3 linked regions of the Homo sapiens genome follow. The protein of the gene in region 3 purifies or fractionates together with the protein of the main gene of each other region. This does not show direct contact. Each region holds a gene or a part of one and is shown on either strand. Other genes may lie near its edges. The genes, in order: STK40, DET1 and ETV5.

What was found.
Region 1: the proteins of ETV5 (region 3) and STK40 purify together in Homo sapiens (affinity purification with mass spectrometry; 3 studies listed by BioGRID and IntAct, with this or other methods). This does not show direct contact.
Region 2: the proteins of ETV5 (region 3) and DET1 purify together in Homo sapiens (affinity purification with mass spectrometry; 3 studies listed by BioGRID and IntAct, with this or other methods). This does not show direct contact.

What each region holds. Positions count from the first base shown.
Region 1 is NC_000001.11:36,351,304-36,355,052, forward strand, and holds part of STK40 (serine/threonine-protein kinase 40), read right to left. Parts: intron 3,114-3,749; coding exon 3,061-3,113; intron 1-3,060. UniProt on the Homo sapiens protein: May be a negative regulator of NF-kappa-B and p53-mediated gene transcription.
Region 2 is NC_000015.10:88,532,957-88,536,705, reverse strand, and holds part of DET1 (DET1 homolog), read left to right. Parts: intron 1-324; exon of another isoform or gene 325-371; coding exon of another isoform or gene 372-394; intron 395-3,749. UniProt on the Homo sapiens protein: Component of the E3 ubiquitin ligase DCX DET1-COP1 complex, which is required for ubiquitination and subsequent degradation of target proteins. The complex is involved in JUN ubiquitination and degradation.
Region 3 is NC_000003.12:186,102,445-186,106,193, forward strand, and holds part of ETV5 (ETS translocation variant 5), read right to left. Parts: intron 3,499-3,749; 5' UTR 3,425-3,498; coding exon 3,380-3,424; intron 3,269-3,379; coding exon 3,181-3,268; intron 3,053-3,180; coding exon 3,005-3,052; intron 2,912-3,004; coding exon 2,861-2,911; intron 1-2,860. UniProt on the Homo sapiens protein: Binds to DNA sequences containing the consensus nucleotide core sequence 5'-GGAA.-3'.

The sequences.
Region 1 (3,749 bases), on a different chromosome or scaffold from region 3:
TGAGAGCTCTCTGCTCTGCTGAGAAGGCCTCCAGCTGGTCCGCCTACTGCTCCAGTGGAGTTATAGCCTGGCATGATGGGTGGGAAGGGGCTGGAGTGGGCTGGAGCTCCTTCAGGTCAACTGAACGAGGTGAGAGTGGGGCCCCAGAGCGGAGGGTGTGCCAGAGGACACACACGGAGCAGTGAGTCTCTCTGCACCACACTACCCTGCCACTCTGGAGCGCCCATGACTCAAGTAAAAGGCAGCCAGAACCTCTGTCTGCCCTGAGACACAAAAAGGGGGATTTATCAGATTCAGGAAGTACAACCAGGACACTGGGTATGAGTGAGGCATTGGCATTCTGCACCCTGAGGAGCACGCACTCACACTCACAGCAGAGCTGCTACAGCCACGCCGGCGTATGCAGGGAGGTGCGACCCCTCGACTACACTCCCAGGACCAAGGGGCCCTGGGGAAGTGAGAGTTGGAAGCAAATCCCCCAGTGACACAAAGGGCCAGGAGTGCTGGTGTGGTTAGCAGGCATGAGCCCGGCAAGTTCCCATGACAACCCTGGGATGTTCATTTACAGCCAATGAATGGCTGCTGTGGAAGGTCTGGGAGCTCTCTAGTCCAGCTGGAGGGCACATGGGCTCTGCAGCCAGATGGATTTAGGTGCCCAAAAAATATGCTCTCTCTTTGTGAACAGTAAGCCTGTAGTCCACAGCAGGATGGGACTGGCCCAAGGCCCCAGAGAGGGCCAGGGGAAGGGGCAGGACCCAATTTCCCAACTTTATGACAACTGGCTCTCCACAGCCCAGGGCTGGTTTGCTCGGGGCTCCCCACCACCTCCTCTCATGATGCAGAGCTATGGCTGGGGGACCGCTGGGCCCTCACCAGGGGTGTCCTCGTTGGCCACTCAACATGCAGCAGGCCTCATCTCCAGAGATGTGAGCCCATGGGTCCTGTTCTCCTGTCTCTCAGCGACAGGCTCTCCAGTCCTGGCTACATTAGCACTGGGGTGTGCCCGTGATGCGCCAAACCCCATCATATTACGCAGCCTCACACCCACTGATTTGCATCTCAGGCCAATCTTCCCAGGAAGCCAGGATGACCTTCACTTTCACAGATGAGGAAATGGAAGCTCAGAGAAGTGCTTGGTACCTCAATATATGAATTCAATCAGTAAGTACCCAGAGGACCACACTCTCACGGTCTCCAAGATAACGAAGAAGTGGCACTGGGAAGTGAGCCAGGTCTGACCCCCATGTCAGTGCTGCTTCCGTCCTCCTCAACTCACTCACTCAGCCAGTCCAGGGTTCAAGCAGCTCTGGAATTTCCTGTTTCCCTCCCTTCCCCCTGCAGAGCATAGCAGGGCAAGGTTCTCATCCCTTCACTTTCTCAGCCTGGCAAATCCCAACTCATCCTTCACGAATTGACTCAGGTGGCAGCCACTGTCCCTCCACATGTCCCTTGCCCTCTGCACGCCAGTCCTCCACACATGATACCATCTTCTGGTCAGTACACCATCAGATGGTGGGCTCCAGAGGGTAGTGGGAACCACTGAGCGTTTCTGTCTGCAGCCCCAGCACCAGGTGGTGCTAGTCGAAGGATGGAGAATGCTTAGCAGCTGAGGTGCACAGCATCGTCCCGATGGCCTCTCAGGCTGGAGCTATGGGATCTGGAACCCCCAGCAGTAATTCCCCATCAGTTGAGATGGGGCACAAGGCAATGCCCCCTCCCCGGAGGCCAACCTCCAGGCAGCTTCTTTTCCTCTGACCACTGTGGCTTTGGCCTCTTTAGAGGACAGTGGGCCTCGGGCCCTTCCTGGGCTGGGCTGGCCACATCATGGAATGAATCACCCACCACAACACTTCTGCTGTGAGATTCAGGCTGCCTTTGTAAGCCCTTCAACCTGCTCAATGCCGAGTTGAGAGGTGACAGAGGGGAGCTCAGAAATAATGGGTGGGGGCGGAGTGGGGGAGATGTGCCCTTCTCAGCCCTGCATTTCAAGGATCATGGTAGCCCACAGAGTGGGCCCACTTCCTGCTGGTCCTGGGTTCCTACATGGTTGGTGGTCCCTCTAACATGGTGAGACAGTGGTAGCACTGTCCCAGATCACTCCAAAGAGGCCCAGGACCCTCTGTCGAGGCGGGATGACAACCTGAAACCAGGGCCGTGCTTGGTGTCCCTCTGCTGCTGGTTCACCCCAACAAGGGTGGGCCGCCAGATCCCCTCCAAGTCTAAGGCATGCTCTCCTTGCTGCTGAGAGAGCTGGTGGCATTTTACAGGTAACCACTCACAGCTGCATCCCTCTCCAGGAGGCCCTCTTAGCCAAAAGAAGCTGCCTTGCCTAAGAGAATGCCCCTCCCTAAGGACAGCAGACATTCAGTGACTGATTGCTGTGGGGGCACAAAGGCCAAGCGCGGGCCATCTGCAGGCCATCCCACTCTCGAGTTTTTCAGGCTGAGGCCCTGCTGGGACTTCACTGCGGTTCAGCTTCTCCCTCTGCCTAATTCCACCCCCTCACCCTGAGAGCACTTCACAGTAAACCTTCTGCACGTAAACCTCAGAGTCTGTTTCCTGAGGAAATTGACCTATGGCAAGGCATCATTTTGCTCGTTCCTTCACCCCATTTGTCCATTCAAAAAATATATATATTTTTGTAGAGATGGGGTCTTCATTATGTTGCCCAGGCTGGTCTCAAACTCCTGGGCTCAAGTGATCCTCCCGCCTCAGCCTCCCAAAGTGCTGGGATTACAGGCGGGAGCCACCGCACCTGACCATTTAGTCCATTTTTATAGTAATTTTATGAGTACCCACTAGGAGCCAGGTGTGACAAATAAATGGACAAGGGAGATCTAAAGTTCTTCCCAGAGCTCCCTTTCTGTGGCTCAAAACTCCCAGTCTCAGCAAGCCCCCAATTCCCATGTTCATCCCATCCCGAGCCCTGGGATTCCTGGAGGAAGTGGGTTGTTTTGAGTCGGAATCCTCATGAGGACACTTCAGGGCACTGGAGAGTTGCAATGTGTAGCCTGCCCCAGCCCCGGGGTAACTGTATGGATGTAGAGACAGGGATCTTACCTCTTGTTGAGCACCATGTTCCCCAGCTTCAGGTCTCTGTGCACGATATTTTTCTGTAAAACAACAGGCGTATGGTTTACATTGTCAATGTGAGAGGTGGGGTCAGGGCCCACCCTGTAAGATGGGGGCTCTCCAGGTGTTCGAGAAGGCAGGAAAAATTCTATGATGTGTCTCTTTAGGCTCCAAGCACAGGCAGATCAGGACAGTTCTAAGTTCGCGTGACCTGCGCGTCTGGATGGGGAATGAATGTGCACCTAGTCAGTGTCTCCCCATCTGTGGCAGCTTCTTTAGCTCTTTCTCCCCTCAGGGCAGTGGCTGGTGGCGAAAGTCACTCATTTTTTCCCCTCCATTAGACATTCCATGGACAGGATGGATCTGGGGGTCGGGGAGGAGCTGTCATGGCTTTGTGACTAAGTACCACAGGCTCGGCCCACAGAAGCGGCACACCGGGAAGAGGCTCAGGCTCTCCTATCCTTTGTCCCAGCGTGCCTGACACCTCTAATCCTACAAAAAGCTCAGATGTGCTGTAGTTGCTTGGGTGGGTATCTCACTGTCATCACTACATGGGGGTGGACACCAGGCCTCTTAACTGATGGGGAATTAACACAGTTGGCTGTGGTAATTACCACAGCTGGGCTGCAGGTCAGCCCTCACCAGGAAGGTGGCCTGCAGGGTGGCACTGTGCCTCA
Region 2 (3,749 bases), on a different chromosome or scaffold from region 3:
TCTGCCTCCCGGGTTCAAGCAGTTCTCCTGCCTCAGCCTCCTGTGTAGCTGGAGTCCCCGCCACCATGCCCAGCTAATTTTTGTATTTTTAGTAGAGATGGAGTTTCACTATGTTGGCCAGGCTGGTCTCGAACTCCTGACCTTGTGACCTCCCTGCCTCAGCCTCCCAAAGTGCTGGTATTACAGGCGTGAGCCACTGCACCCGGCCAGTTTGTTCCTCTTTTACTTTGTTTAGTGTATTCTTATTCTTCAAGGCTCATACCAATTGTTGCTCCATTAATTATTTTAACATATTTATGAGCGCTTAACTGTCCCTTCTCCTAGGTGCTGGGAATACAGCAAGGAATTAGACCAGTTCCCTGCTCTCTGGTATGGTGGGACAGATACTAAAAAGGTAAACAACTTAATTTCAGGAAGAGATAAAGACCATTAATAATATAGGGTGTATCAGTAAATTCATGTGGGCAGACGTAAGGTGCCTGGGGAAGATTTCTGAGGAGGTACTATTTTAGCTGAGACTTGAATGATGAAACAGAGGCAGATCTTTCAGCACTTAAATAATGTTGTTCCACTTCTTTCTAACTTCCATGGTTTCTGATGAGAAATCTACAGACATTTGAATTGTTGCACCTCTATAGGTGATACGTGGTTTCTATCTGGTTACTTTAGAGGTTTTTACTGTATATCTTTTAGTTTTTTCCATTTTAGCTATGATGTGCCTGGGCATGGATTTCTTTGGATTTATCATATTTGAGGGTCTCTGAACTTCCTGAATTTGGGGGGTCTCTGAACCTTTTGAATTGGAGTTTATATCTTTAGCCAAATTTGGGAAATTTCCTTCCTCCTTCCCTTGCTTCCTTCCTCTCTCCCTTCCTTTCTTCTTTCCTTCCTTTCTTTCATCTTTCTTTTTTTCCCCTTCCTTCCTTTCTTTCTTTCTTTTTTTCTTTCTTTTGACAGAGTCTCACTGCATTGCCCAGGCTGGAGTGCAGTGGCATGATCTCAGCTCACTTCAGCCTCTGCTTCCCAGGCTCAAGTGATCCTCCCACCTCAGCCTCCTGAGTAGCTGTGACTACAAGTGCACACCACTGTGCCCGGCTACTTTTTGTATTTTTAGTAGAGATGGGGTTTTGCCATGATGCCCAGGCTGGTCTTGAACTCCTGGGCTCAAGCAATTTGCCCATCTCAGCCTCCCAAAGTTCTGGGATTATGGATGTGTGCCACCACCACCAACTATTACAGCCATTATTTCTTAATTTTTTTTTTTTTTCTTAGCATTCTACTCCTCAAGATCAGGGTGTTACAACTTTTGATATTTTCCCTAGGGCCCTGAGGCTTTACTGACTTTTTTTCAGTCTTTTTATTTTTTCCCTCTTTTGTTCACATTGGGTAATGTATACTAATCTATCTTCAGGGTGACTGACTCATTTCTCTGATGACTTCATTCTGCCCTTGAGCCCATCAGTGAGTTTTTTATTCTTTTTCAGAATTGTTTTTAAATTTTTAAAAGATATTTTACTAGAGTCTATGGAAGCTAGAAGAGTTTTGTATGCTGGTTATTGCTTTTTCAGCTCTAAACTTCTTATCTGGATCTTTAAGAAATATCTTCTGTTTCTTAGCTGAGACTTTGTTTTTCCATCATTTCAAGAGTGTTTGTGATTACTTATTGGAACATTTTTATAATAGGTACTTCAAAATCTGTCTCAGAGAATTCCAACTTTTGTAGCATCTCAACATTGGTGTCTGTCAATTGTCTTTTCTAGATTGAGTTTTTTCCTAGTACTTCATATGCTGAATGATTTTGGATTGTTTCCTAGACATTTTGAATATTATAAGATGATAGGGCTTGTTTAAATCCTAAGAGGATGTTGGTGATTTTTGGCTTGGTAGGCAATCTACCTAATTAGCTTCAGGGAATTTGCAATTTGTAACTCTCTTTAGGCTATGGTTCTAATGGCAGATGAATTTTCAGAAAGTCTTTGCAGTGCTATTTGGATCTGTCCCATGTATGTGACATTCAGTGGCCAGTCTGCAATCTGGGTGTTGATTATTTCAGTTCTCAAAGCCTTTAGTATGATTTGGACCAGATCCACACGTGTGCAGCTTGGGAGTTCATGAACAACTTCATGATGTTACTTTTCTGAGCTCCTCCCCATCTGATATCTCCCCAGTACCTTCTGGTTCCACTGGGGTCTCCCTTTTGATCCTCTGATGACAAAATTGGGGCTTTAATTATCCTTCCTTGCAACACACTTGCTCTTCAAGCAGCAGGAGAACCAGGGGAGACAATGTTAACCTCACTGCCCATTCAGTGGTACTTTATTGTTAGCCAATTGGTTTTTCTCATATGCCTGTCTTATGCATTCTGTCTAGGTTTTATAGCTGCATTTTTAGTGGGAGAGAGAAGGTGGTGTTTGATTATTCCATCTTATCTGGCAACAGCTTTATAACTTAAGTTTTTCACTAAATGCCGTTGACTTTTATGGCCTGTGATTTAACTTTGATTTGAATCAAGGTATAATAAAACAATTAGAAGACTTTGCCATATAATAGATGCCCCATAAATATTAAAACATATTTTTATTGTGATTTTAAAATAGCCTAACATTTACCGTCTTAACTGATTGTAAGTGTACAGTTCAGTAGTATTAAGTATATTCACATTGTGAAATTGATCTCGAGAAGTTTTTCATCTTGAAAATCTGAAAAGTCTAACCCATTCAACAGCACCTTCTCTTTCCCCTCCTGCTAGTCCCTGGTGACCACCATTCTTCTTTGTTTCTGTGAATTTGATTCCTTTTTCTTTTTTTAATGATAAGTATTTTACATTAATTTTTTTTTTTTTTTTTTTTTTTTAGAGATTGGGTCTTGCTCTGTTGCCCAAGCTAGACTCAAACTCCTGGGCTCAAGTGGTCCACCTCAGCCTCCCAAGTAGCTGGGATTACAGGTGTGTGCTATGGCACCTGGCTGTTAAATTTGATTACGTTTGATACTTCATTTAAGTGGAATCATACAGTATTTGTCTGTTTGTGATTGGCTTATTTGACTTCACATAATGTCCTCAAGTTTCAGTGATGTAGCATATGTCAGAATTTTCTTCCTTTTGAAGGCCGAGTAATATTCCTTTGTGTGTATATACCATATTTTGTTTATCCACTCATCCATCAGTGAACTTTTGGGTTGCTTCCATCTCTTGACTACTATGAATAGCGCTGATATGAACATGGGTGTGCAAATATCTCTTAGAAATCCTGCTTTCAGTTATTTTGGATTTATACCCAGAAGTAGAATTGTTGGATCTTATGGTAGTTCTAATTTTCTTCAAGGAACCTTCATACTGTTTTCCTTAGTAGCTGTACTATTTTTCAGTTCCACCAACAATGCACAAGGGTTCAACTTCCTCTATGTCCTCAATGAAACTTGTCATTTTCTTTTTTTAAAAAAAGCAGTCGTTCTAATGGGTGTGAGGTGATATCCCATTGTAGTTTTGATTTACATTTCTCTGATGATTAGTGATGTTGAGCATCTATCTTTTCATATGCTTTGTGGCCATTTGTATAGGAGAAATGTCTGTTCCAGTACTTTGACCATTTTAAAATTGGGTATATGATTTTTTGTTATTGAGTTATAGGAGTTCTTTATATGTTCTAGATATTAACCCTTTATCCAATATATGATTTGCAAATATTTTCTTCCATTCTGTAGAAAGCCCTTTCACTCGGTTGATTGTGTCCTTTGATCACAGAAGTTTT
Region 3 (3,749 bases):
AAACATGGTGAAGCCCCGTCTCTACTAAAAATACAAAAATTAGCCAGGCATGGTGGCAGGTGCCTGTAATCCCAGCTACTCGGGAGGCTTAGGCAGGAGAATTGCTCGAACCTGGGACGTGGACATCCCAGTAAGTGGGCCGAGATTGCGCCATTGCACTCTGGCCTGGGTGACGAGCAAAACTCTCTCTCCAAAAAAAAAAAAAAAAAAAAAGGTTTGCTTTCCCCTGGCAAATCTAAGTTTGGCTTATATTCATTGGTTAAGTGAGTCAAACCAACTCATAAGGTTTCATTAAATTTGAATGAGTTTTCTTCCCTCCCCTGAAAAAAATCACGAGCTCTTCCAGAAAATGACTGGAGTGAAGCTGGTCCTGAACTCGAGGCTGTGGAAAGCGCTCATGGAAAAGTAAGTGCATGCAGCCGGCTGTGGGCTCTGCCAGCTCCTCCTCATGCTTCTGGCTGTTGGTCTGAACTGCAGGCAAACAAACTTGCTTTTGCAAGAATGAATGGCTCAAAGATGCACCACCCACATTTGTGTTCTTGCCTTGCTTCTTAAGCAAGTTATTCTATTTGAATCTATCCCTTCTTGAAGCTCTACCTCAAGAAATAAAGTCAGAGGGAAAGAATCATTAGAAGACCTTTTCTAGGCTAGTCAACCATCTCTTTTATCCTTAAAAGACAGAAAGGCTCAACCTTAGGCAGTTAAAACAAAAAGTAAGCAAAGTAAAAAAAACATCATACTTGGTAAGCAGAAACATCTCCCAAATTACCTCCACTTGAGGTATGGAATTTTAATTAAAGAACTTAGCACATTCTATTTGCTGAGCAGAAATTATTTCTAAAGAGCCAAAACACATTTATTGATTTCTTCACTTTAGCCTATTCCCACAGATAAATATCTCTCCAAATATAAATCCTGCTTGCTGACAAAGAACATACCCTTGCTTCAGCACATGCAATCAATTTGAATGCAGCCATCTCATCTCCCTTTTAACTCTTTTGGGTTACAGAGAAACAAACAAAAGTGTCATAAAAGCATTTCAAAGAACCTCTGCCAAGAAAGCCACCTCCCAAACAGACTGCAGTTTATGCTGCTCTGAGCAAGAACTGGAAAGGCTGGGCCAAATTGTCAACACAGAACAAAGTTGGATTACAAACCCTGTCTTTCATCTTGCAAACACACACACACACACACACACACACACACACACACACACACACACACACTTGGATTATCTTTATTTAGTCTTTCAGTGGCAAGCTTCCCAATCACTCGAAAGCAATCAAAGGGCAATAATTAACATGCATTTACTCTCCCATAGAACACATCCACAGCAAGCTGTGACAAAGCTAAGGTAACCATGCATGTGTGTGTTCCAGTTTATTCCCTTTTACAGTTTCATGGCATTGTGCCTTGGACATGAGGCCTATCATTAAGGAATGTTTAGCTGTTACCTCTGCTCTTACATTTAAAAGATTTGGAATACCCAACTTTTTACTTAGAGAGAGACCTAAGATACTCTCTCTCCAGTGGCATTTTTACACACATACACCCACCTACCCAGAGATAAAACAAAGCTGGGAAGAATCTGTTGGTCCAAAATGAGAAATTGAGTCCTTGCATGGCTCAGGTGCTTGCTATTATAAACTATGACTAAGAGACATGAATTTCTCTATGATGCAACTCTCAAGAGAGGCAGCATTTTCTCCAGGCCTCTCTTAAACCTGCTCATTCGCCAGTGACTAATGCTCTCTAGAGCAGCCCTGTGCTGCTCAAATTTCATCAGCCGGCTTTGTCCTTCATAACTCTGCCTAGACCATAAAAGCTCCCAAACCTGTTGAGGACAGCCCCAAAAGATCAGTGCAAAGTAACCATGCCCCTGCCAGTGTTGAAAGCCATCTTTTGAGCTTCCCACTGCATTTTCTCTCTAGTAATGAGCACTTAGTGGCCATTTTAAGAAAAAGTTTCTCTTCTCTGAAGAGAAAAGCCACAGCAACTACACGAAAAGTAAGAGTAAATCAGGCCACTCTGTGACCACCCCTTGTCAGCTTAGGGGTAGAGACAAAATTGACAACATGTTGGATGAAGCCAAAGTTAACTGGAGTTTTCCATTAACTATTTTCTGCACCTTTAAGAAAAAGAGAAATATCAGGTTCATGATTCACATCAAGGACTTAATTTATAAAACAAACCCCAAAAAAGCCATAAAACAATGTGTGATTAATAGATGCTTGGCCTAACACCAAATATATTTTGTCAGTTAATTTATAATTTTGAGCTTAAAGCTTTGCAATATTCTTTTTTTTTTTTTTTTTGAGATGGAGTCTTGCTCTGTTGCCCAGGCTGGAGTGCAGTGATGCGATCTCAGCTCACTGCAACCTCCGCCTTCTGGATTTAAGTGATTCTCCTGCCTCAGCCTCCTGAGTAGCTTGGATTACAGGCGCCCACCACCACACCTGGCTAATTTTTGTATTTTTAGTAGAGACGGGGTTTCACCATATTGGCCAGGCTGGTCTTGAATGCCTGACCTCAAGTGATCCACCTGCCTCAGCCTCCCAAAGCCCTGGGATTATAGGTGTGAGCCACTGTGCCCAGTCAGCTTTACAATATTCTTAAGGTAAAAAGAAATTTAGGATAAAATTATGTTCAGTAAATCTTACCTGCAATACAGTAGAAATACTTTAGAAATAATTTTATTATGAAATAAAAGTTTTCAGGGTTAATTCTGAATTATTAGAAGAAACTAAATGCATACTACTGTCTAAATCTGGCCATAGCTGAAAAAAGCATATTCTAGACATGGATGATCTAAGACCAAACAATTTCAGAACAAATGTGCCATCACCAGAAAGGTACTTACGGTTATCAGACTGAAAATCTGGGACAAACTGTTCATCATCAGGAACTTGTGCTGGAAAATAGATTTTTATTTTAGACCTTTAAGTTTTATTAAAAAGCACAGTAAAATGTTTTATATGGAAAATAGGACATCCATGAAACTTGCCTTCAGCTAACCAAGCCTCTTGAAGTTGACTGAGATCCTGAAATAGCTCTGAAATTGAAAAAGAAGACCCCAGAATGAGGATATTTCTTTCGCTAGGGAGAAGACAGGGAAGAATCTACACGCTACTGTCACTGGGAGCAGGGAAGCCACAACATAATCAGGGAAAGCTTTACTACCTTCAGAATCGTGAGCCAGATCTGTGTCCAAAAACTTCCTCTTTCTGTCAATCACAGGCCGCCCTCTGCATTCCTCAGATCGAGATTTCTGAAAGAGGCCAACAGAAAGTGAAGGCTCAAGTGTAGTAAAGAGGTCCACAGGGGGAAGACTCATATTGGAGAGGGAGGACAAAACAAACCAAAAGCCACATAAACTTACCCCTGGGACCATAAAAGGGACTTGCTGATCATAAAACCCGTCCATGGTGCTTTCAGCGTCTCTAATACCACTTTGAGAGGTTTCAGCATTGAGTAATTTCTGGGGGAAAAGGGATCCTCCTGTAATATGAATTTGGGAGATTTTAACTAAGAGGGGGGAAAAAAAGAAATGAAACAATTTTAGACTGCCTTTTTTTTAGGGCCTGTGCAAAATTATTACCCTTCTGTGAAGTACTTAAAACCTACTCAAGGTGCAAGCTTTACACACCAATGCCGGGCTTGATTAATGGTATCAGAGGTACAGGATGTACTCCGTGCCAAATCCATTTACCCAGTCATCATTTTTTCTTTCTTATTTAAATCATTAAAAT